7 linked regions of the Homo sapiens genome follow. The protein of the gene in region 2 purifies or fractionates together with the protein of the main gene of each other region. This does not show direct contact. Each region holds a gene or a part of one and is shown on either strand. Other genes may lie near its edges.

What was found.
Region 1: the proteins of ATF2 (region 2) and RAD18 purify together in Homo sapiens (affinity purification with mass spectrometry; 2 studies listed by BioGRID and IntAct, with this or other methods). This does not show direct contact.
Region 3: the proteins of ATF2 (region 2) and CCT3 purify together in Homo sapiens (co-immunoprecipitation; 2 studies listed by BioGRID and IntAct, with this or other methods). This does not show direct contact.
Region 4: the proteins of ATF2 (region 2) and TPM4 purify together in Homo sapiens (co-immunoprecipitation; 2 studies listed by BioGRID and IntAct, with this or other methods). This does not show direct contact.
Region 5: the proteins of ATF2 (region 2) and COLGALT1 purify together in Homo sapiens (co-immunoprecipitation; 2 studies listed by BioGRID and IntAct, with this or other methods). This does not show direct contact.
Region 6: the proteins of ATF2 (region 2) and CD44 purify together in Homo sapiens (co-immunoprecipitation; 2 studies listed by BioGRID and IntAct, with this or other methods). This does not show direct contact.
Region 7: the proteins of ATF2 (region 2) and HSP90B1 purify together in Homo sapiens (co-immunoprecipitation; 2 studies listed by BioGRID and IntAct, with this or other methods). This does not show direct contact.

What each region holds. Positions count from the first base shown.
Region 1 is NC_000003.12:8,942,973-8,946,472, forward strand, and holds part of RAD18 (E3 ubiquitin-protein ligase RAD18), read right to left. Parts: intron 1-3,500. UniProt on the Homo sapiens protein: E3 ubiquitin-protein ligase involved in postreplication repair of UV-damaged DNA. Postreplication repair functions in gap-filling of a daughter strand on replication of damaged DNA.
Region 2 is NC_000002.12:175,112,704-175,116,203, reverse strand, and holds part of ATF2 (cyclic AMP-dependent transcription factor ATF-2), read left to right. Parts: intron 1-1,335; coding exon 1,336-1,514; coding exon of another isoform or gene 1,515-1,518; exon of another isoform or gene 1,519-1,961; intron 1,962-2,095; coding exon 2,096-2,210; intron 2,211-3,500. UniProt on the Homo sapiens protein: Transcriptional activator which regulates the transcription of various genes, including those involved in anti-apoptosis, cell growth, and DNA damage response.
Region 3 is NC_000001.11:156,314,293-156,317,792, reverse strand, and holds part of CCT3 (T-complex protein 1 subunit gamma), read left to right. Parts: intron 1-245; coding exon 246-378; intron 379-545; coding exon 546-627; intron 628-3,500. UniProt on the Homo sapiens protein: Component of the chaperonin-containing T-complex (TRiC), a molecular chaperone complex that assists the folding of actin, tubulin and other proteins upon ATP hydrolysis.
Region 4 is NC_000019.10:16,093,495-16,096,994, forward strand, and holds part of TPM4 (tropomyosin alpha-4 chain), read left to right. Parts: intron 1-41; coding exon 42-104; intron 105-189; coding exon 190-259; intron 260-1,769; coding exon of another isoform or gene 1,770-1,852; exon of another isoform or gene 1,853-3,250; intron 3,251-3,500. UniProt on the Homo sapiens protein: Binds to actin filaments in muscle and non-muscle cells. Plays a central role, in association with the troponin complex, in the calcium dependent regulation of vertebrate striated muscle contraction.
Region 5 is NC_000019.10:17,572,649-17,576,148, forward strand, and holds part of COLGALT1 (procollagen galactosyltransferase 1 precursor), read left to right. Parts: intron 1-3,500. UniProt on the Homo sapiens protein: Beta-galactosyltransferase that transfers beta-galactose to hydroxylysine residues of type I collagen. By acting on collagen glycosylation, facilitates the formation of collagen triple helix. Also involved in the biosynthesis of collagen type IV.
Region 6 is NC_000011.10:35,201,671-35,205,170, forward strand, and holds part of CD44 (CD44 antigen isoform 1 precursor), read left to right. Parts: coding exon 1-117; exon of another isoform or gene 118-874; intron 875-2,841; coding exon 2,842-2,970; intron 2,971-3,500. UniProt on the Homo sapiens protein: Cell-surface receptor that plays a role in cell-cell interactions, cell adhesion and migration, helping them to sense and respond to changes in the tissue microenvironment.
Region 7 is NC_000012.12:103,929,131-103,933,209, forward strand, and holds the start of HSP90B1 (endoplasmin precursor), read left to right. Parts: upstream 1-1,279; 5' UTR 1,280-1,385; coding exon 1,386-1,434; intron 1,435-2,390; coding exon 2,391-2,493; intron 2,494-3,146; coding exon 3,147-3,288; intron 3,289-3,695; coding exon 3,696-3,812; intron 3,813-4,079.

The sequences.
Region 1 (3,500 bases), on a different chromosome or scaffold from region 2:
TGACACCCCACAAAGACCACACCTTAGAAAAATGGACCACACTGAAGAAATATAAACAAAGCTCAAACAGACCTAACCTAAGAAAACATTATACCAGGCCTTGACAGAACAAAGATGAAGAGCTGATAATTTAACTGCCTCTTAGAACAAAATGTGACATCTTTCAAAAGAAGACAATTCACAGCTTCTACAACGTTTCAACCACAATGTTCAGCACATATTTTAAAATTATTGAACATGCAAAGAAGCAAGAAAAAGTAGCCACTAATCAAGAGATAAAATATTCAATAGAAGCAGACCCAGAGGTAATCCAAAGAATAGCATCTCTAGGTAAGGACTTCAAACTATGATAAACATGTTAAAGAAAAAAAAAGAAAAGGGATAAAAAGATAGTGTATTATGAGAAATAAAATCCATAAAAAAGAATAAAATGAACATTCTACAACTGCAAAATACCATATCTAAATTGGATGAGTATAACAACACACAATACAAACTTGAAGGCAGGTCAATAGAAAATATCCAAACCAAGCACAGAGAGAAAAATGAATGAAAAAGACAAACACAAAAAAGTATGAGATATTGGGCATAATTAAAAGCCCAGAAGGAACAGAAAGAAAGAATGGGAAATCAGCAATACTAGAAAAACCAATGGCTGAGAATTTTCAAATCTGATAGAAAAAAAAAATCAACCCATAGATTCCACCACTACCGAATTTACATGAAACGCAACAACAGAAAAATAACTAGAAAATCTCCAAATGTTAAGAAATAAAGCACCACACTTCTAAATAACCCCGCATGTCAAATCACAATGAAAACTAGAAAAATATTCTAAACTGAACGATAGCATGAAGGGTTGCCAAAACTGTCCCTGGAGGGAAAATTATTGAAAATAGAAAAAGTAAAAACCACCACTCTAAGCTTCCAACTTAAAAGGTTAGGAAATGAACAGCAAACTAAACCCAAAGAAGAGAGAAACTAATAACAGATACTAGTGAAATAGAAGAGATAACAAGAGAAAACAAGCAAAGCCAAACATTGGTTCTTTGAAAAAATTAACAAAACTGTTAATCCCTACTAAGACTGAACAAGAAATAAATGAGAGAAAATACAAATTACCAAAACAAAGAATTAAAAGAAGACCTCGTTACAAATCCTATAAAGAAGATAATTAGAGGATATTATGAACACTTTAAAACAACAAATTTTAAATTTTAGATAAAATGGACAAATTCTTTGAAAAGCACTATTCATCAAAACTGACAAAGAAACAGAAAACCTGAAGAGCCCTTATTATCTGTTAAAGAAACAGAAGCTATAATTTAAAACTTTTCCACAAAGAAAACTCCAAGCCCAGATGGCTTCACTGGTAAATTCTACCACATATTTAAGGAAGCTTTGTTTATTTCTTCAGTGTGGACATGGTGGCACATACCCATAGTCCTAGCTAATTGGGAGGCAGAGGCAGGAGGATCCCTTGAGCCCAAGAGTTCGAGGTTACAGTGAACCATGATCATGCCACTGCACTGCAGTCTGGGCAACAGAGCAAGAAGAAGAGAGGAAAGGGAGGAAGGGAAGGAAAGGGAGGGAGGAATAGACGGGGGAGGGAGGAATAGAGAGGGGAAGGAGAAAGGAGGAGGGAGGGAGAAAGGAAAGGAGGGAGGAAGAAAGGAAAGCAGAGAGGGAGGGAGGGAGGGAGGAAGGAAGGAAGGAAGGAAAAGTCTTGTCCATCTGTTAACTATACAATAACCTTACCTCTTCAGAATGGGGCTAAGAATCAAGAGTCAAAATAGGCCTTTGGGTAGACATGGGCAGCCATTAAATCTATGCAATCAATTCCATGGACTTCTGTAACTAAAGTCCTGCAATGCTTGTTCTGATCAGAAACATGTAAACAGCAGTCTAGAACCATTTGGCTAAACAATAAACTGTAGTCGGCCCTTCCCATCCACCAGCTCTGCATCTGTGGATTCAACTAATCACAGAGCAAAAATGTTCAAAAAATAATAAAAGTAACAATACAACAATGAAAAATAATATAAATTTTAAAAACACAGTATGACAACGATTTATATAGCATTGTATTAGGACTATAAGTAACCTAGAGGTGATTTAAAGTATAAGGGAGGATGTGCATATGCAAATACTATGCCATTTTATGTCAGGGACTTCAGCATCCACAGATTTTGGTATTCTCAGGGGTCCTGGGACCAATCCCCTTTACTGAGAGACAACTGTACTAAATTTGATCGTTTTTAGAATGCAAACCAATAAAGAAATGTGTAATTCTATTGAAAGAAATCTGTTTATATTTTTAAAAGCAACATAAGGTACCTCATAGAATGTTCCAACATGCTTTGTTCAACAAGAGACCAAATACACAGTGGTGGTTTCATTAGACGATAATGGAGCTGAAAAATTCCCATTGCTAAGTGACATCTTGATAATCCTAACCCTGTGTGGGCCTAGGCTAATGTGTGTGTTTCCATCTTCTTTTTTTTTTTTTTTTTTTTTTGAGACGGAGTCTTACTCTGTCGCCAGGCTGGAGTGCAGTGGCGTGATCTCGGCTCACTGCAACCTCCAACTCCCTGGTTCAAGCGATTCTCCTGCCTCAGCCTCCCAAGTAGCTGGGATTACAGGTGTGTGCCACCATGCCCAGCTAATTTTTGTATTTTTAGTAGAGACAGGGTTTCACCATGTTGGCCAGGATGGTCTCGATCTCCTGACCTCGTGATCCACCCACCTCGGCCTCCGAAAGTGCTGGGATTACAGGCGTCAGCCACCAAGCCCGGCCTCCATCTTCATTTTTAAGAAAAAGTTTAAAAAGGAAAAAATAATAACAATTTTTAAAAACAGAAAAAACCTCACAGAATAAGGATATAAAGAAAGATGCTTATACAGCTATACGATGTGTTTGTGTTTTAAGCTAAGTGTTATTACAAAAGAGTCAAAAAGTTAAAAAAATATAAAAGTTTACAAAGTGTAAAAGTTACAGTAAGGTTAATTATTGAAGAAACTTTTTTATAAATTTAGTGTGTAGTCTAAGTGTACAGTGTTTATAAAGTCTACAGTAGTGTATGGTAAGGGCCTTAGGCCTTCACATTCACTTATCACTCACTCATTGACTCATCAAGAGTAACTTTCAGTCCTGAAAGCTCCATTCATAGTAAATGCCCTATAAAGATGTACCATTTTTTATCTTTTATACCATATTTTCCCTGTACTTTTTCTATGTTTAGATACACTAATAGGTACCATTGTGTTGCAACTGCCTACCGTATTAGCTATAGTAACATGCTGTACAGGTTTTGTTACCAAGGAGCAATAGGCCCTGCCATATAGAATAGGAGTGTAGTAGGCTATACCATGTTGGTTTGTGTAAGTACACCGTATGATGTTCACACAGCAACCAAATTGCCTAATGACACATTTCTCAGAACACATCCCTGTTAAGCAACACATGATTACACTTAACTACAGGGGCACCTGACCACTAT
Region 2 (3,500 bases):
CTGCTTCTACCTCCAATCCATTTTCTGTAAGATGACTTTTAATACATTAAATATGTCACCTGCTTAAAATCTTTCAATGGTCTACCATTGTATTTAAAATAATTCACACTCCTTGGCATAAGCCCTCTTTGATCTGGGCCTGTCTACGCATCTATCCTTACCTCATGCCTCTCTATTGTGTTCATCAAATATTCAAAGCTTTTTCCTACCTCAGGACATGACATATATGGTATTGCTTCCTTCTCCCTACAATGAAATGCTCTCCTCCTCATCCTTTTATCATCAGTTCGAATGCTGTTTTTGCAAAGAAGCTCACCTATTCTTACTATGCTGTCTAAATTAACTGACTCTTCCTTACCTTCAGCTAATCTTTCATCCTTTGTTACATTGCACGTATTATTCTGTAACACTTAACATTTACTACAATCTGAAATTTTCTTACTTGTTTTACTTGTTTATTGTCTCTTCCTTGAGAGCTAGTCCTTGGGAGCATAAGTTCTCAACTTACTGAATAAATGAAGTTACAATACTACTACTTTATCCTTCTTCCTATGTAGCTTAATAAGATTTTGATGATAAGTGGCAGCATACAGGCCAATTCATAAAACACCATAGACCCAATTTTTACACTGACTATTTAAGGAGTTCTGGGTAAAATCTTTTAAAACTTTTTGTTCTATAATTTGTAAAACCAGAGGAAATACCATCTTTAAGGTCTTGGCTGACAAATTCTGTTTTCCTGACTTGAAAGAGTTCACTCCGGTAATTATTTATTTTACATTCAAGATATCAGTATTACGTGGCCTTTTGATATGAAGAAATTATTGATATAGAAGAGGTAGCTAACTGGAATTAACAATTATTTGTATTGCTCTAAAAGTTCTTATTTCTGTTACTTAATTGTATCAGCCATAACACAGTCTCACTGGACCTGTTTCCTCTTCATACAGTATAATGAGGGAGGGGGACTAAACAGTCCCTTCTGGATTTTAAGTTCTGTGATTCTCTGAGAATGGATTATATTTTTATTTTTTATTAAAATTCTCTTGGTATCATAGCCAAGTTGCCCAGTCTAACTTATTTCTGGATTGATAGGAGAACAAGTTGTACTGGAAAAAAAAAAAACGAGTCTTTTTAAAATTAAAATATTAATTGAACATTGCATTTGAATCTTTACAGCTCTTCTAAAATGTTCTTTTAATTAATTTGAGATATTAATTTGCTTTTAGCAGTTATTATTCTGTAGATGCTTTTAGAAGTGTGTTACATTCTGTTCACTAAGGTACATGATTTGTATTTTTAAATGCCACCCTTTTTTATCTCATTGTTAAATAGGAAGTACCATTGGCACAAACTGCACAGCCCACATCAGCTATTGTTCGTCCAGCATCATTACAGGTTCCCAATGTGCTGCTTACAAGTTCTGACTCAAGTGTAATTATTCAGCAGGCAGTACCTTCACCAACCTCAAGTACTGTAATCACCCAGGCACCATCCTCTAACAGGCCAATTGTGTAAGTGATTCAGGCCAATCATTGAACATATACATGAATTAAGTTTGTTTTGTAATGATTTTTCCTAAGACATTTGATTATTCAAACTAAGATCTTAGTTTTGTATGTGTGTGCATGCTTCGAATTTTGGAAAAAGTACTTGCGTAGTCTTCTTTAATATAAATATTAACTAACAGAGTGGGAGATAAATACAACTAAAAACAAATATAGAATGTGAATTTAAGATAGTCTTATTTTCATGCTATTTCACACAAAATATAAAATTACTGCATCACCAGATTCCATTTCTTTCAGTTCTTACTGGTAGCTCCCAAGAGCTCTCTGATGACAGTTTTTCTCATTTTACAAATTGGAGATTGTCCTAAGTAAATCCATAACTTTTCTCTTCTTTTCAATACTGCTACACAGGTTATGCATTTAAGATGCAATTAAAAATAATTAAATTTTGCTATTTGCTTTGCTGTGGTTAGAAAATGTATTTTTAAATGATATGATTATAGGAGTAAAAATACTATTGTATTTTTAAGAGACAGTTGGTATGAATCTCTTTTTTAAAATTTCTCTTCTTTTGTTTTTCTTAGCCCTGTACCAGGCCCATTTCCTCTTCTGTTACATCTTCCTAATGGACAAACCATGCCTGTTGCTATTCCTGCATCAATTACAAGTTCTAATGTGCATGTTCCAGCTGCAGTCCCAGTAAGAAAGTTAGACTATTTAAATCTCTATCGCAAAACTGATCTTTGTAGTCAGAAAATAAAGTTGGCTGCTTGACTGGCTTATGAAATTGAATTTAACATAATATTGATTAGCAGTTGATAGTATTTATTTGTTATCATTGTAATAGCATATACCATTCAAGGTATAGCTATTTTTTCTCTTCTCCCCAAAACCTTAATTTTTTTTTTATACTGAGATCTTCTTATTCAACCCATATCAATTTGACTGGACTTGTAGCATTCAAATATTAACACAGATTTCAAATTTTAGAAAGATATTTGTACTAGAATACTTGTCAGGTAACTCTGTGGTATTTCTATTAGTATGGAAATTGTTTATAAAGACACACTCTGAATTTTTGTGGTCAAGTAGGGTTTGTAGAATCTTTGATAGCCCAGCATGTTAAAATGTAAATGTTCTAGAAAAATAATCTTTCACTTTCCCTGTGAAAAGACCCCGCAAAAAAGTTTTTTGAGGGGTGTGTTAAATATATAAATTTTGAAAGACGTAGACAAAATAGTTAACTATCTACTTATGATATTTAATAGTTTGGCCAGGCATGGCAACTCATGCCTGTTGTAATCCCAGCGTATTGGGCGGCTGAGGTAGGAGGATTGTGTGAGCCCAGGCGTTTGAGACTGCAGTGAGCTATGGATCCTGCCTGGATGACAGGGCAAGACCCCAAGTCAAAAAAAAAAAAAAAGTAATAGTTTAATGAACATTTAAAAACACATTGTTTGGAATAATGTGTGTTAGAAAATTGCTTTTTTCTTACTTACATTACATAAAACAGTTTTATTCAAACAAACTCTTCAGTTATGTCTTTGACATTCAAATTTTCATCCTGAGAACCACTTTTTGAGACATCTAGCACAGTTTCCAGAACACAGTATTTTCTTTTTCATCTAAATCATTTACGATATTACTTTATGAATCTCTCTATTATTCTCTCCCTGGAAATCTTACACCAAGCATTAGGTACTTATTTATGTAATAAAAAGATAGTTTTTTCTTTTACCTTCTAAGATGCTTGTTACTGATCAGTACAGTGTAATCATTTACAGTGTAGCTTTTAAAAATTATTTTTAGGCCAAGTGCAGTGGCTCATGCCTGTAATCCCAGCACTTTGGGAGACCAGGGTGGGTGGCTTGCCTAAGTCCAGGAGTTCAAGACCAGGCTGGGCAACATGGCAAAACCCCATCTCTACAAAAAATAAACACAAATTAGCCAGTTGTGATGGAAGCACCTGTAGTCTCAGCTACTCAGAAG
Region 3 (3,500 bases), on a different chromosome or scaffold from region 2:
AGCTTGCAGTGAGCCAAGATCGCGCCATTACACTCCAGCCTGGGTGACAGAGCAAGATTCCGTCTCAAAAAAAAAAAAAAGCAAAACTAAAGCTAAATTGGCTTACAGAGGTGTTGAGGTCATGGCTTTAACATAATTCTGACTCTGAGATACGTGGGAGAGGTGGGTGGAAGGAGTATAATATGACCCTTAGAGCTTCACCAGTCCAGGGATTTTAAAATCAGTGTCTTTTCTTTACCACACAGACTGACATTGAGATTACACGAGAGGAGGACTTCACCCGAATTCTCCAGATGGAGGAAGAGTACATCCAGCAGCTCTGTGAGGACATTATCCAACTGAAGCCCGATGTGGTCATCACTGAAAAGGGCATCTCAGGTGGGACTTTGTTACTTTTTCCAGCCTACCTTTGAGGTAGACGAGGGTGGGTGATTTGTTTTCTCCCCTCATGTTTGGCAGGGGCGTAATAGTGTCATGGTTAAGAGTACTTTGATTATAAAACCAGTTCAGAACCCAGCTTGACATCTCTACTCTTGGATTTGTAGATTTAGCTCAGCACTACCTTATGCGGGCCAATATCACAGCCATCCGCAGAGTCCGGAAGACAGACAATAATCGCATTGCTAGGTGAGTAGGCCAGGTAAAAACAAGACTTTTCTTCCCGTGTGTTTCCTTTTTGTAGTTGCGTAACAGTCATCATTACCTGAAAAGGTTTAATAAAGGATATAGTAACAGGTAGAAATAACCTTGGCTTAGCTGCCTGCCCTCTTCAGAAGTCCTCTAGTCCAACAGTTATTTACTGCGTGAGTCTCATCTGTACTGCCCCTAACCATTAGTGAGCAGCTTGTGCTTAGACATTTGTAATTGCTACCTTGGTGGGTGTCCGTTACATTTCTAAATAACTGCCTATCTAAGAGGTTTTCTTTAATGTCATTATGATGATTTTTGAATGAACATTTCCAGAGTATCCTAAGTGGCCTGGATTATAGCAGAACCATCAGTTTCCTCAGCTACATCCTTAGCTGCGATTTATGCGATTCTAGATTGCATTCACTACTTCTGCACTGATGTCTGTGCTCATAGACCATTCTTTTTAATAGACAAGGTCTTGCTGTGTTACCTAGGCCTGTCTCAAACTCCTGGGCTCAAGCAGTCATCCTGTTGTCAGCCTTTCCAGTACCTGAAACTATTGGCATGCGCCACCATGCCCAGCAAAGTTCATTCATTTTTAATTTATCAAAAAGCTGACAAATCTACCCCAACATAATATATCACAGATCCAAATCATATTTTATACTTTTATACCCCAAAGGGTATTAACATGCATACACATAGTTGACTTCACATGGCCATGAGTTGGAGGGAGTGACAAGCAATTAGTCCTACATTCATTAAACTTCGGTCAGACGTATGCAGTCATCCCTTGATATCCACAGGGCATTGGTTCTAGGATCCCCGCCCCCTTGAATACTAAAGTTTGTGGATGCTTAACCCTTATATAAAATGGTATGGTATTTGTGTATAACCTATACACATCCTTCTATACACTTTAAATCACCTTTAGATTGCTTATAATGCCTAATATAGCATAAATGCTATATAAATAGTTGCTATACTATATTGTCTTTAAAATTTATATTATTTTTTGCCGTTGTATTATTGTCCATCCCCCCACCCCACCCCCCCTGCCATGTTATCAGTGCATGGTTGGTGGAATCTGGATGCGGGACCTGCGGATATAGAGGGCCAACTCTACTTACATGTTTATTCGCCTTCCTCCTTGCTTGACCTTTGCATCTTTGGTACAGTCTTTATTATTCGCCTGGAGACTCAACTGGGCAGTACAGGATGGGTTATATCTAGAAGTTACCATTATATAGTATAGACATGTTAATTTTTTTCTTTTATCTTTCTTTTTTGCAGGTTCTAATTCTCTAGTTGAAATATGTACATGTTAGATATGCATGAGAACTAATTTGTCCAGATTTTAGTAACCACAAAGTATATTTTGAATTCAACTATATCTGGTTATAGTAGTGATGACTAGTTGCCTTAAGTGTACAGTTGACCCTTGAACAACTTGGGGGTTAGGGGAATCAGTCCCCAAGGAGTTGAAAATCCATGTATAATTTTTTGACTCCCCCACTCCTAATAGCTGACCGTTGACCCGAACCCTTACCAATAACACAATTAACTATCACATATTTTGTATATCATATGTGTTATATACTGTATTCCCTTAAATAAAGTAAGCTAGAGAAAATGTTATTAAGAAAATCATAAGGGCAGGGCACGGTGGCTCATGCCTGTAATCCCAGCACTTTGGGAGGCCAAGGCAGGTGGATCACCTGAGGTGAGGAGTTCAAGACCAGCCTGGCCAACATGGTGAAACCCCATCTCTAATAATAATACAAAAATTAGCTAGGTGTGGTGGTGCATGCCTGTAATCCCAGCTACTCGGGAGGCTGAGGCAGGAGAATTGCTTGAACCAAGGAGGCGGAGGTTGCAGTAAGCTGAGATGGTGCCATTGCACTCCAACCTGGGCGACAAGAGTGAAAGTCCGTCTCCAAAAAAAGAAAATCATAAGGAAGAGATAACACATTTACTATGCCTTAAGTGGAAGTAGATCATCAAAAAGGTCATCATCATCTTCATGTTGAATAGGCTGTGGAGGAAGAACGGGCTGGTCTTTCTGTCTTGGGTGTCAGAGGCAGAAGAGTGGTAGAAGGGGAGGCAGGATGGGCAGGAGGCACACTCAGTGTAACTCAATGGAAATACATCGTGATTTGTCTGACTTCTGCTTTTTTGTTTCTCTAAAAATATTTCTGTATAGTACCAGTCCCTCTTCCACTGCTTCAGTTTCAGTGCCTCTATCATAGAAGGGTCCATATCATAAAAGAAGTCAAAAGCAGTCTTGAATAATCAGAAGCCTTCTGCCAGATTGTCTAATGTCAGTTTGTTTTCTGGCACTGCTGCTTCTACATCATCTTCCTCATCGTCTGGCACTGCTTTGGAAGCAGTCGTCTCCATCAAGTCATCTTCTGTTTGGTTTTTTTTGTTTTTATTTTTTATTTTTTTGAGATGGAGTTTCGCTCTTGTCGCCCACGCTGGAGTGCAGTGGCACAATCTTGGCTCACCACAACCTCCGCCTCCTGGGTTCAAACGATTCTCCTGTCTCAGCCTCCCGAGTAGCTGGGATTACAGGCGTGAGCCACCAAGCCCAGCTAATTTTGTATTTTTAGTAGAGACGGGGTTTCTCCATGTTGGTCAGGCTGGTCTTGAACTCCCGACCTCAGGTGATCCACCCACCTCAGCCTCCCAAAGTGCTGGGATTACAGGCGTGAGCCACTGCACCTGGCCTGTCATCTTGTGTTAATTCCTCTGATGTAATGTCTGTTAGCTCTTGAGTTTCTCCAAGATTCATATCTTGAAACCCTTCACCACCGCTATGCCAGTTTTTTTAGCCACATCCACAGTCTCTTTCATGATTTCCTTGATTG
Region 4 (3,500 bases), on a different chromosome or scaffold from region 2:
GGCCTCCTTTTCTTAAAGCAGTGTTTTGGTTTCTCCCACAGTATTCTGAAAAGGAGGACAAATATGAAGAAGAAATTAAACTTCTGTCTGACAAACTGAAAGAGGTGAGTGTGGTGGCACCCAGCGAGCTCTGGTTTCTCCTGGGGCTGGTCTTGAAGCCATGATAGTAACTCCTTTCTTCTTATCTAGGCTGAGACCCGTGCTGAATTTGCAGAGAGAACGGTTGCAAAACTGGAAAAGACAATTGATGACCTGGAAGGTATGAGGTTACCATCTAAATGTTTGCCTTGCCCTGCCTTCCCCTCTGGGACACATCCACGGACAGTTGGGGAATGTTTGTGGAGGGGCTGGGTTGGGCTTTGTTTGCCTTAGGAAAGTAAAGCGCATAGTGATGTCATATCTGGATGTCCTGGAACACTGGAATAGGATAATGCAAAGCATTCAGGCTTGAATGGCCCTTTTTTTTTTTTTTTTTTTTTTCTATGAGACGGAGTCTGGCTCTGTCTCCCAGGCTGGATGGAGTGCAGTGGCGCCATCTCGGCTCACTGCAACCTGCGCCTCCCGGGTTCAAGTGATTCTCCTGCCTCAGCCTCCCAGGTAGCTGGGACTACAGGCGTGTGCCGCCACACCTGGCTAATTGAATTGCCACTTTCAGGAGGTAAAATATCTCTGCTTAGTTAGTCCCATGAGCAAGTATAGAGAAAAGAGTATGGCTCTCTCTGATTAAAAAAATATTAATAATAAATTAAAAATCTCAGGCCAGGCGCAGTGGCTCAAGCCTGTAATCCTAGCACTTTGGGAGGCCGAGGCGGGCGGATCACTTGAAATCAGGAGTTTGAGACTAACCTGGCCAACATGGTGAAACCCCGTCTCTACCAAAAATAGAAAAAATTAGCCAGGCGTGGTGGTGCACGCCTGTAATCCTAGCTACTGGGGAGGCTGAGGCAGGGAGAATCCCTTGAACCTGGGAGGCGGAGGTTGCAGTAAGCCAAGATCACGCCACAGCTCTCCAGCCTGGGTGACAGAGCCAGACTCCGTCTCAAAAAAAAAAAAACTTCACAATTTCCTTCTGTTTGCTCATTTCTGATAGATGCCTTGCATTTTTTTTTTACATGCCTTGCATTTTTGCAGAAGCTCTGTCCCAGGGAGCTCAAAGCTTATCATAGTATTTAAAAAAAAAAACAGAAATACAGAAAGTGTAGGGACTGCAATAAAGACTAGTCTGCAAGTCTGGGGCCCACTTCTCCCAGAATTTTTTCAAGAGTTCCAGTGTTTAACATTCGGCCTCAGAAATTCCAGAATCTTGGGGTTCAAATGGAATCTTCCAAACTGCCCATCCCACCCAGAAAGGACACATTCTTCAGACCATATCTTCCAATGTTTTTTTGGGGAAGTGAGGTTCCCATATAAGGGAAAATGCCCCATTCCAAAATACGACCTTTGGACAGGGTGACGTCATTGGAAATCCGAAATAAACTGAGGGGTGGGGACCAGTGGGGGGAAGCTCTGTCACTTCTGGTTACCACTGTTTTGAAGCTTCATTGTGGCTAATCCCCCTGCAGAACCTCAAACCACTTAGAGATCAACTCCATAGATCTTTGGTTTTCTTCATCTGTTTCACATGGAACACAGCTTTCTCCTAGTCTGTGCTTTGTTTGCTCACGTGTTTTTTTCTTCCTCTTGTGGTTCATCTGTGGCACTCCATTCCGACCCTTGCCTTCTGTCCCCTGTACTTCTGAACTGTCTCCCTGGGGACCTCCGCCCTCTAGATGAGTTATACGCTCAGAAGCTCAAGTACAAAGCTATCAGCGAGGAACTGGACCACGCTCTCAACGACATGACCTCTCTCTGAGAGGCAGCCAGGTCGCTGCCCTCTGTCCTTCTCACATGGTGCCTCCTACGCCCCTGTGGGCTTCTAGGAGCTCCGGTGGCCTGCCTTCTGGTTTGAACGTCAGAGCCTTCTTCTGATGTGTCTGTGACTCTACAACCGAAATAAAGACGGGCAGTCCTCCTCTTCATGCCCCCTCATTCTCATTTTCTCCACTTGCTGCCTTTGAGCTGTAGCTGTGTGCCCTTAACCATAGCCTGAAACACAAAGTGGGTGGTTAGCCTCTCTCACTCACAAATGAAAAGCTTATTACAAAAAGAAAATTATGCCTACAGGATGCTTTTCTGAAGACGTGAAAACAAAAGCAAACTGGGCATGTGCTCTCAGATACCGCTGTTAGCTAACGGCATCTGCATGCCAATAATTTTTTTTTGTTTTTTTGTTTTGAGACAGGGTCTTGCTTTGTCACCCAGGCTGGAGTGCAGTGACACCATCATAGTTCACTGCAACCTCCACCTACAAGGCTCAAGCTATCCTCCCACCTCGACCTCCCAAGTAGCTGGAACTACAGGTGTGCACCACCACACAAGGCTAATTTTTGTACTTTTTTTTTTTTTTTTTGAGGCGGAGTCTCACTATGTCGCCCAGGCTGGAGTGCAGTGGTGCAATCTCGGCTCACTGCAACCTCCGCCTCCCGGGTTCAAGCAATTCTCCTGCCTCAGCCTCCCAAGTAGCTGAGATTACAGGCATACACCACCACACCTGGCTAATTTTTCTTTTGGATTTTTAGTAGAGACAGGGTTTCACCATGTTGGTCAGGCTGGTCTCAAACTCCTGACCTTGTGATCCGCCTGCCTTGGCCTCCCAAAGTGCAGGGATTACAGGCTTGAGCCATCACGCCTGGCCATTTTTGTACTTTTTGTAGAAGCGGGAGGGTTTCACTATGTTGCCCAGGCTGGTCTTGAACTGCTGGGCTCAGGCAGTCTGCCCACCTCACCCTCCCAGGGTGCTGCAATTACAGGCATGAGCCACCGCGCCCATCCCCAATGGTTTTTCCTTAAATAGAAATTGTTGTGAATGGAGGCTCATCCTTGTAAACCGCTTAGGCAGCTTAAGAGTCAACAGGGATTTGGAAAAACCAGCAAGCCTGTGTCAAAAATGAGGCTCCCCTTGAATGGGGCTTGAGCTACAGATTCAAACAGCGGCAGTGACATTTTGATCTCCATTTCCTCCTTTTCTTGTGTCTTTTCTCTGTGTTACACTGTGAGTGTGGTGACTGGGGCTTCCCGTGGCTTTACTCTTCACTGTTCATCCAGCTCCCAGTCCTGGGAGGAAGTTCACCTCCACGCCCTGCCCTTAGAAAACTGACTGTACAAGGAGTGAACGGGCCTCCATGAACAGGGAAAGTGCTGTGACGTCAGAAGACGTGAATTTAGAATTCTTTTCCCGAATTCCAGAATTGCCTGAGACTGCTAACATCAATCTCCATTCATATTTCAGTTAGTTATAACAGGAACCTTGCTTTAGTTTAGAATAGCTCTTAAGGTTGACCTGTGGGTAATAAAAGGTCATGCTTTTTCCTACATGAGGAATATGGAGAAAACAAGGTCACTCTTTTTTTTTTTTTTTTTTTTTTTTTTTTTTTTTTCAAGACAGGGTCTCACTCTGTTGC
Region 5 (3,500 bases), on a different chromosome or scaffold from region 2:
TTTCACTGATGTCTCAAATCCGTCCCATGAGCACTGACTGAGTGCCAGGCAGATGCAAGTCCCTGTGGGGGGTGCTGGGTGCAACGGCACGTGTGAACGAGGTGGAGGGTTGTGTCTGCTCTCACAGAGTGCTGGTTTGCAGGTAGCTGTACACAGCATGCTTGGGGTTGTCGGGTGGGCTTCCTGGAGGAGGTGGCATTAAGGGGCAGGTTGAGTAGGAGTTCACCATAAAGGGGATTGCAGCAGGAGGTGGTAGTGTGGGCAAAGGCCGGGAGGCTGGAAGGGACGTGAACCTGGGGAACAGGCAAGGTCAGTGATCCCCTGGGGCTGGTATCCAGGGCCAGGGTGGATGGCCTCAGAGACCAGGCTGAGGAAGGGACCTTCCCCCTGAGGACAGTCAGGAGCTATAGAGGACATGAAAACTGAGAGGACAGCAAGTTTTCACTAAAGAACTGCATGTATAGGCCAGGCATGGTGACTCAAACCTGTAATTCCAGCACTTTGGGAGGCCAAAGTAAGAGGATTGCTTGAGCCTAGGAGTTCAAGATCAGCCTGGGCAACATAGTGAGACCCCATCTCTATATTAAAAAAAATTTTGGCCGGGTGCGGTGGCTCATGCCTGTAATCCTAACACTTCGGGAGGACGAGACGGGCGGATCACAAGGTCAAAAGATGGAGACCATACTGACCAACATGGTGAAACCCTGTCTCTACTAAAAATACAAAAAAAATTAGCTGGGTGTGGTAGCGAATGCCTATAGTCCCAGCTACTTGGGAGGCTGAGGCAGGAGAATCACTTGAACCTGGGAGGCGGAGGTTGCAGTGAGCCGAGATCGTGCCACTGCACTTCAGCCTGGCAACAGAGTGAAACTCCGTCTCAAAAAAAAAAATTTTTTTTTAATTAGTCCGACATGGTGGCACATGCCTGTATTCTAGCTACTCAGGAGGCTGAGGTGGGAGAATCCTTTGAGCCCAGGAGTTGGAGGCCGCAGTGAGCCATAATCGTGCCACTGCACTACAGCCTGGGCAATAGAGTAAGTCTGTCTCAAAAATAATAATAATAAAAAATAATTATCCCAGCTCTTTGGGAGGCCAAGGTGGGCGGATCCCTGGAACCCAGTAGTTTGAGAATATCGTGGGCAACATGGTGAAACCTTGTCTTTACCAAAAAAAAATAACAAAAATTAGCCAGGCGTGATGGCACACACCTGTGGTCCCAGCTACTCGGGAGGCTGAGGCGAGAGGATCCCTTGAGCCCAGGAGGTCGAAGCTGCAGTGAGCCAAGATTGCTTCACTGCACTCCAGCCTGGGCAGCAGAGCCAGACCCTGTATCAATAAATAAATAAATAAAACTTTAAAAAAATCCATGAACTATGAAACCAGCAGCCGTCCCTCTAAAACTGGAGGAGCACGCAGGGCTGAGCTGTAATTGAGGTTGTCTAGGGATGATGCTCCCATCTCAGCCATTGCTAATGTGGGCCTCGCCCTGCACTGGGCGCAGAAAGCCCTGCCAAAGCCACTGCCATTCCCACCACTGCGTAGATGGAGACTGGGTGGGAGGGGTGAGGCCTCTGTCCCGGGGCTCAGTTTCCCCAGCCTTACCGATTTCTGAACGAGTCTATCTGCGGCTCCCCCTGGTGGCTCAAGATGGAATAGCACCCTGCCCTTTGTGTTTTGGGGAGACTTTTTTTTTTTTTTTGAGACGGTGTCTCACTTTGTCACCCAGGCTGGAATGCAGTGGCGCATTCTGGGCTCACTTGAAACCTCCGCCTCCTGGGTTCAAGCGATTCCCCTGCCTCAGCCTCCCGAGTAGTTGGGATTACAGGTACCTGCCACCACACCTGGCAAATTTTGTATTTTTAGTAGAGACGGGGTTTCACCATGTTAGCCAGGCTGGCCTCGAACTCCTGTCCTCAGGTGATCCACCTGCCTCGGCCTCCCAGAATGCTGGGATTACAGGCGTGTGTCACTGCGCCTGGCCTGGGGGAGACTTTTGAGTCTTTTTGAGGTGACACCTGGAGACTGCACAATCACTGGGGCAGGCCCCCCACAACACCCAAGAGTGGCATACTTAGGTGTCCAGGTCCCACCCGGCTACAGTTGGGGGTGGTGGGTCTCCATTTATCACCAACTCCCATCAGAAACGGGCCTGAGAAGCGTCTCTGTGGCTACCAGAGTTTTCCCAGTTTAAGTTCTCACATATATTTGTGTTGTCATTTCCTTTTTTTGAGACAGAGTCTCGCTGTTACCCAGGCTGGAATGCAGTGGCAAAATCACAGCTCACTGCAGCCTCAACCTCCTTGACTCAAGCGATCCTTCCACCTCAGCCTCCTAAGTAGCTGAGACCACAGGTGCATGCCACTACCATGCTCAGCTAATTTGTTAATTTAGGTTTTTGGTTTTTTTGGTTTTTATTTTTTTGAGATGGAGTCTTGCACTGTCGCCTGGGCTGGAGTGCAATGGTGCGATCTTGGCTCACTGCAACCTCCGCCTCCCAGGTTCAAGTGATTCTGCCCCACCTTCCCAAGTAGCTGAGTTTAACAGGCGCTTGCCACCACGCCTGGCTAATTTTTTGTATTTTTATTTTTATTATTTTTTGTTTGTTTGTTTTTTTTGAGACGGAGTCTCGCTCTGTCTCCCAGGCTGGAGTGCAGTGGCCCGATCTCGGCTCACTGCAAGCTCCGCTTCCTGGGTTCACGCCATTCTCCTGCCTCAGCCTCCCGAGTAGCTGGGACTACAGGCGCCTGCTACCACATCCGGCTAATTTTTTGTATTTTTATTGGAGATGGGGTTTCACTGTGTTAACCTGGATGGCCTCGATCTCCTGACCTTGTGAGCCACCTGCCTCGGCCTCCCAAAGTGCTGGGATTACAGGCATGAGCCACTGCGCCCAGCTAGTTTTTTGTATTTTTAGTGGGGACAGGGTTTCAGTATGTTGGCCAGGCTGGTCTCGAACTCCTGACCTCATGATCTGCCCACCTCAGCCTCCCAAAGTGCTGGGATTACAGGCATGAACCACTGTGCCCGGCCTTCTTTTTTGCTTTTTTTGGAGATGGAGTCTCTGTCACCCAGGCTGGAGTGCAGTGTCACCATCATAGCTCGCTGCAGCCTTGAACTCCTGGGCAATCCTTCTGCCTCAGCCTCCCAAGGAGCTACAGATTTCCCCTTTTAAAAGCACACAAGCCATGTGGATTAGGGCCCACCCTAATGACCTCATTTTAACTCGATGACCTCTGTACACAACCCTGTGTCCAAATAGGATCATATCCTGGGGTACTGGTGGTTGGCACTGGGGAGACACAGTTCACCCCATGACATAGTGCATGATCTCATGACATCTCTTTGTGAAACCTCTCAGTGGCTTATTGGCCCATTTTATAGATGAGGAAAGCTGAGGCCCAGGCCAATCAAGAATATACAGCATGCCATCATTTCTTGGTTCATTCTACAAGCAATTACTGAGTGCCTGCTGTGTGCCAAGCCCCTGTGTTGGGCACTAG
Region 6 (3,500 bases), on a different chromosome or scaffold from region 2:
ATGTAGACAGAAATGGCACCACTGCTTATGAAGGAAACTGGAACCCAGAAGCACACCCTCCCCTCATTCACCATGAGCATCATGAGGAAGAAGAGACCCCACATTCTACAAGCACAAGTAAGCAAGATGGCGGTCGGCAGTTCTGGGTTAGATGAATTAGTAAAGACATTCCAGCAATAGGGAAGATTTTGTTTAGAAATTGGCCGCATCTTCTATTTCCACTCGGTAATTTCTTTTATTCTTAGAGCCTGAAAAGCTGCTAAACCCGCACACAAATTTTAAAAATTGGAAGGAAAATGATAACTCATCAGGTTGCCCAAAGGCCAAAATGTTTTAAGAAGTAGATCTAGATACAATTTTTGTGTTAAAGGTTCCTAGAGGTTCCATTTGGGTAACTTGTGTGTGTTCATTGAAATGTGTGGCAAAGAGTGTGTTCTTTTGGTGCTTAGTAGTGGAATCTGGAAAGAAAGTTTGTCAAGTGAATTGATCTTTGGAATCCTTATTTTCTATGAAGATCTTTGATGAATACAGTGTCTTTTTTGCATTCTGTCCCTGACTGTTCTATAGAAAGACATCCCTTGTACTCTTTAGAGCAAAGTTGGTAGCTCTTATGGTCTTCATTTGAATTCTACCACTGCTTCTTTTTCTGTTTTTAAGCCCATGGTAACTTGGGGAAGGCTTTGATGCTCTTACTGTTATTTCTACTATTATGAAAACTCAGGTTTTCCAAAACAATCTCAAGTTGCGGCAGTGGACTGTGAGAATAGGGGGCCCCCTCACTCCCCAAACATAAGAAGTATGTGCTTTTCTTCTTTTATCTATCCCGCTGAGATATGTCTATCTTATTTGGAATAAAAGTATTTATTTTGGAAAACAGCTTTTTAGCATTTTTAAAATGATGACCCAACTGTCATTCTCACAGCCCTAGATACACCTAATGGGGAAATGTGAGCCACTTAAAAGCCACTTAAAAACCAAAGGGCTTTGGGAATCTATGGCTTGAGGGGTGCCTTCAGATAACAAAAGAAAAGTTTCAGGTATCAGTTAGGATAGAGGTTAGACATTGTACTGAATATATCCAGCAGATCTTACATCCCATTACAAACCCCAGTAGGTGTGTTGTATACATACGGCTTAGGGGTTAAGTTAACAAAGAAGTCTGATAAGAAAAGGAAATACAGAGGAAGCATAAATCTCTTTGGAATAGGATTTTGTTCCACTCCCTTAGAGCCCTAACAGTATACCTTAGAAATTATTTTAGACAGTTTGTACTTAAAGACCAGAAAGCTACTTTAGAGACTTGGAAATAATGAGCCTATTGTCAAAAGGTGGTGCTTGCGGGGCATTAGGACTAGAGGGTTGGTGAAAATTCAGACAGAATGTAACTTGACAAAGAGAAGACAGCAACAACTGTAACAATTATCTTATGAATATTTGCGAAACTCAAAGGGATCTGATTGGTGACCTCTGGGCTTTATCAAATTAACATCACAACTTCTAGAAGAAAGTCAACCTTCATCTTTTACAATAGAAATCATATGTTTTGCTAACCCATTCCTATTTAGGCTGAAAACAATTAAGAGTTATGGGTACTTAAAAAAATCATTATGTTTATAAAATTAGTGATAGAAGGAGCATAGTGTTCTATACAGTCACACACATACACTTCCTTATTTCTTTTATTTAAACTTTGAGTAACATAGCAGTCTATGTTTGGGTCAGTTTTCCCTTTTTTGTAATTACATTCAGTGGTTTTTGTAACTTCATTATTTATTGGGAATTAGTGATTTAGTCAGTGGGAGTTTTGTAAAACTTAAGATTTTGGCTTTTTTCCCCCTCCTCCTGGATAACCAGTTAACCCAATAATGGCTTGGCCGATGGAAGGGTAAAATGAGGACAGTTATATTTTTTAAATGTCATTACTGTCACCAAATCACACATATCATTTTCTAAGATAAGGAAATACAACCATTTTTACAAGTTGCAAAAAAGTACTCTGGCTTGGCAAGTTTATAGACTCTCATTTTCTTGATAAACTAAAAAAAAAAAAGAAATTGCTACAAGCTGCTATAGACAAAAATGTTGGTGTCTTTCTGACTTTTCCTGAAGACACCTTGATGGAATTATATTCTCTTGATTTTGTCCTTTTTAAAATGATGGTTGAAATTTTAAGCCTGTCACACACTATTATTTATATAATGCCTCAAACTGGCTTGGATAGTTTTCGTCAACTGAATTAATTTTGTTAAAAAGTGATTTTAGCAATTTTAGGTGCCATGTGGACATCACCAAATACTGTGTTAGTGGAATAGCATCCAAGCCATCCCACCATCTTTCCTGCTGGGCAAATCCACTGCTGGTGCATTTCCAGTGTGTGCGATTATGGGTTACATGACCACCATTTGAGAAGGTCTCCTAATGTGCTGATCTTGTTATTAGCTGTTATACAGTGTTTTCCTTTCGTCAAAATGACTGGAGCAAAGAGGTTATTCTTTGAATGGTTTTCTCAGACAGGGTATGTGAAGCCATTCACTACAGTAAAATAAAAATAATAATAACTCATAGAACTATGAGAATTCATCAGCTATGGTCTGCTTAGTCCTATGATTTTGAACAAATCAAAACTTCTTTGGACCACAATTTTCCTAGCTGAAAAATTAAACATTTGGATCATTTGATTTCTCATATCCCTTTTAGAATATCAGTGGCCTGTTTCCTTGGTGCCTTTCTTTTCTACCTTCCCTCCCCATGTGTATCTGCCCTTAAAGTAGAAAGATATGTTGACAGCTATTGGTGAGGAAAATAGACAATTATGTCTCCCAACTGATATTCTTCTCACAGTCCAGGCAACTCCTAGTAGTACAACGGAAGAAACAGCTACCCAGAAGGAACAGTGGTTTGGCAACAGATGGCATGAGGGATATCGCCAAACACCCAAAGAAGACTCCCATTCGACAACAGGGACAGCTGGTAATGGATGGTTTAACAAGTAAATTTGGATGGAAACTTCCTTTTGGGTTAAACGGTAGACATTGAGGACATTGAACAAAAGGACACTGGAGGAATTGTCACGAGATGTTAGGTTACTTAATAAATTATGCTGCAGTTCACACAGAGCCAAACCTTAAAGGCTCATAACAAGTCACCTGAACAGGAATGGATACAAGCCAGTTATGAATAAGAACAGGAAACACAGAGAAAATGCCCTTGAACATGTCTCTTTCACATCGAGTTTTGGGCATCATCTAGTGAGATTGTAGCAGAGGCCCTGATAAAATATCGCTGTCTGTTGTATAAAGGAATCTACTCTATAATGTGGGTCCAGACTTTACAATATGATTCTGCAAAGTCTGGCTGTGAGAAAGCATTTTGTCAGAACTCCAGTGTTTGAAGAAATAGAGCCAGACATTATGTGAAAAGTGACACCTGTCTGATGTCATTTGGCCTTTTGGCCATGCCTGTTCAGTAATTTGTTTTTGAGTATAAAAAAGGTATCTTCT
Region 7 (4,079 bases), on a different chromosome or scaffold from region 2:
GCTGCAATCCCGTTCTCATGTGCAGCACCACAGGTTTTGCTTTCAAATATCTGCAGGTGCATCCTCCTGCACTCGTTAAACTAAGGGTTTTCCTTTTCTGTGCTAGACCCGCTTTTACGACCACGCTCTCCACCTGATTCACAGAAAGGGTTCTACGACCGTCAGGTCACCGCCGCCTTTGTACTTTATTGGGGAGTCGAAGGCCTCAGCGCTGCTCGCGATTTCCCTAAGGTGGTCGGGAAGGTCCCAACCACGTTCTTCTGTAAACCAGATAAGGAAGGCCTGGGGATTCCGGCCGCGGAAAGGCACAGAGGAGGTGAACGCTCCGGCTGCCCAAGTGACGCACTTGTAGGCGGATTCGGAAACTCGTGCTCTTGAGCCGGAGGCGGAGCCCCCAGACTCAGACCGACCCCCCAGAACCGGGCGGCCTTGCCCGAGGCATGAAGGCTTTCTAGGCCCGCTTCTAAAAGCTGTGTACAATGGAGACTCCTGGAATAGGCACATATCTCTACTGTAATCAGAACGAGATGTAACATCTAAGACGCAGGGCAGGGCTCTGGCAAAGACACGCTGGGGGAACGTGAAAGAAAGGGCCAAAACTACGCAGCTGGTCCTCAGAGACCAAAGACTACGACCCCCAGCATTCAATGCAGTGAACCCCTAGGACGTTGCATGCCGGGAGCTGTAGTTTCTCACCACCGCCACCCCCCCGCCCCCCCGCCATCTGAAAGGGTTCTAGGGGATTTGCAACCTCTCTCGTGTGTTTCTTCTTTCCGAGAAGCGCCGCCACACGAGAAAGCTGGCCGCGAAAGTCGTGCTGGAATCACTTCCAACGAAACCCCAGGCATAGATGGGAAAGGGTGAAGAACACGTTGCCATGGCTACCGTTTCCCCGGTCACGGAATAAACGCTCTCTAGGATCCGGAAGTAGTTCCGCCGCGACCTCTCTAAAAGGATGGATGTGTTCTCTGCTTACATTCATTGGACGTTTTCCCTTAGAGGCCAAGGCCGCCCAGGCAAAGGGGCGGTCCCACGTGTGAGGGGCCCGCGGAGCCATTTGATTGGAGAAAAGCTGCAAACCCTGACCAATCGGAAGGAGCCACGCTTCGGGCATCGGTCACCGCACCTGGACAGCTCCGATTGGTGGACTTCCGCCCCCCCTCACGAATCCTCATTGGGTGCCGTGGGTGCGTGGTGCGGCGCGATTGGTGGGTTCATGTTTCCCGTCCCCCGCCCGCGGGAAGTGGGGGTGAAAAGCGGCCCGACCTGCTTGCGGTGTAGTGGGCGGACCGCGCGGCTGGAGGTGTGAGGATCCGAACCCAGGGGTGGGGGGTGGAGGCGGCTCCTGCGATCGAAGGGGACTTGAGACTCACCGGCCGCACGCCATGAGGGCCCTGTGGGTGCTGGGCCTCTGCTGCGTCCTGCTGACCTTCGGTGAGTGATTCTGGAGGAGCAGACGTCCCCCCTCCACACACGCGGCCGCTTCTCGAAGGTCCTGGGGGCGTTGAACGTGGGAGGGGGGATCCCGGGGCCTGCGGTGGGCCAAGGGACGTCACCATTCCTCGAAAGAGGGCAAGGGAATTACGTTTATTCTCTTCTTCCTCTGGAAATAAAAAAAGAGAGCAACATCATCTAACTGCCCTACAGATCTAATAGTATCTCGCCCGGAGGTCTCAGCGACCTCGGGGTGGGGCCTCTCTGAGGCTCTGGCTCCCCCGGGAGCTGTGCGAGTCCCTCCCCCCTCCCCGCCCGGAGGACTTTTTCGGCCACCGCAACCTTCGGCCATCCCAGCTTTCCCGTCCCCTAATTCCCCAGACTCCGACTCCTCGCAAGCCCGTGTCCCTTCTTAGATGCTGGCCTCGGGAGCGTGAGGCCTGGGGCCAGCGGAATGGCAGTGTCAGCGTGTTTGATTCAGTTTTGCTGGAGTTCGGTTCTTAACATTTCTCCCCCTTCTCATGCCTCTGGGCTCAATTTCAGTTCCCCTCGCCAGAGGTTGCATAAATCCTATTTGCATTCTGACCTGTGCTAACGAAGGCCGAAGTTTTGGCTTGATCAGTTGGGAGGCCTTGGCTCGGCCTGCGCGCAACACGTGTGGGTGTAGAAGAGGCCTGGTATCAGTCTGCTTAACGTTATTTATAAATGATCGGAGACACACTGTTTAGAAGTGGTGACTGCCTCCGTATTTCAGGATCTACTGGAGACTTCAGCATCTGAACTTAAATAGATGTTCTGTCTTGGCTTTACCTTTGGTATTTAAACCAGGGAATGCACTCTTTCATCCCCACCTCCCTTAGTTACCAACTGAATTTTGCAACCCCTACCCTTCCCTATTTGATCATCCTCCTTGGAGAAGTGTGATGTTGAAGAGTTTGCCCGTGTTAAATCTTCAGGGTCGGTCAGAGCTGACGATGAAGTTGATGTGGATGGTACAGTAGAAGAGGATCTGGGTAAAAGTAGAGAAGGATCAAGGACGGATGATGAAGTAGTACAGAGGTTTGTGTTCATTTGAACTTACGTATACAGATAAGCCGTGTGAACCTTGTGAGTTACGGTCACTTCTTATGTATCTCTTCTCCAAAGGTCCAGATAAAGTCTAACACCCTGTATTTAAATACCCGGTGAGTTGTGTGCATACATACCTCCTAACTTGTCCCTAGGAGTGATGAAAACTGAGTGAATTCCTTTGAAAACTATATTGCAGAATACTAGCACCATAAACTTTGTAAGACTTTATAGAAGATACTTTCAGTTGGATTTGTATTCATTAACTGTGTACACCGAGTAAGTTTAAAAATGGGATTTCTGTCAGTTGAACAATATTTTAAAATTTGGCCTCTTGGGACTTATTGACAGTTTTGAAGTCCTCACTGTGGAGCATAAATGAGTATGACTTTGCTTTTTAGTAGAGGAAAGTTGGGATTTTTTTTTTTCTGGCAATTTTAAGAACCGAGTATTTCCAGTGTAATGTTAAAGGTAGCCTACTGCTGTGCTAACATAATGAGACGGTATATCAGTTATATTTTATAAAGGTTTCCATTTTAACCCCCAAGACAATATTCAGAGGCCCCTGTGCTTTCATCATAATTCCTCTAGTTTTGAAGGGAACTATGCCATGCAATATTTGCTTACCTAACTGATTTCCTTAGAGAGGAAGAAGCTATTCAGTTGGATGGATTAAATGCATCACAAATAAGAGAACTTAGAGAGAAGTCGGAAAAGTTTGCCTTCCAAGCCGAAGTTAACAGAATGATGAAACTTATCATCAATTCATTGTATAAAAATAAAGAGGTAAGCAACATGTGGTTAGAATATTTTATCTCTGTATGGTGGCATACTTGTTTACTTAAATTTGCTTAATTTACTGCAAAAGTAATGTAGTATCCAAGTAAGTAGGTAACAACCTTTAAATACCTAATATGTCCAAGAATTGCTACCAGATATCTGGGAAGAAAGGGAGTGTCAGACATTTTCCTTTTCCTTTACCTCTAAATAGGTTCACGGCCTGATAATAGTTGTGAGTCTAAGGGCAGTCACATAAACTAAACTTCTTGCATTGCATACCTGAAGATCACTGTTAGGTGAATAAGAGTGCTTTTATAAGGTACAGAGAAGAAATAAATGGGTTTGGCATAAAATCGAATATCTTAATGCATCTTGAGGATAGTCTAAGTGTATTCCCTCTGGCTTCCATTTAGATTTTCCTGAGAGAACTGATTTCAAATGCTTCTGATGCTTTAGATAAGATAAGGCTAATATCACTGACTGATGAAAATGCTCTTTCTGGAAATGAGGAACTAACAGTCAAAATTAAGGTAAGTGTAAGGCAGTTTTTCTTTCTTTTAAAGGAAAAGGAATCCTTAAAGGTAGAGGATCCCTATCAGTCAAGATAGGCTAGATTATTTTGCAGTGGCAAAAAAACCCCAAGTCTCAGTGGCTTGAAAGTCATCAAACTATGGCCAAATCTAACTTGACTTGTTTTTCTAAGTAGTTTTATTGGAATGCAGCCATGCCCATTTGTTTATTATCTGTGACTGCTTCTGTGCTTCAACAGCAGAGTCAAGTTGTTTTAACAGAGAACA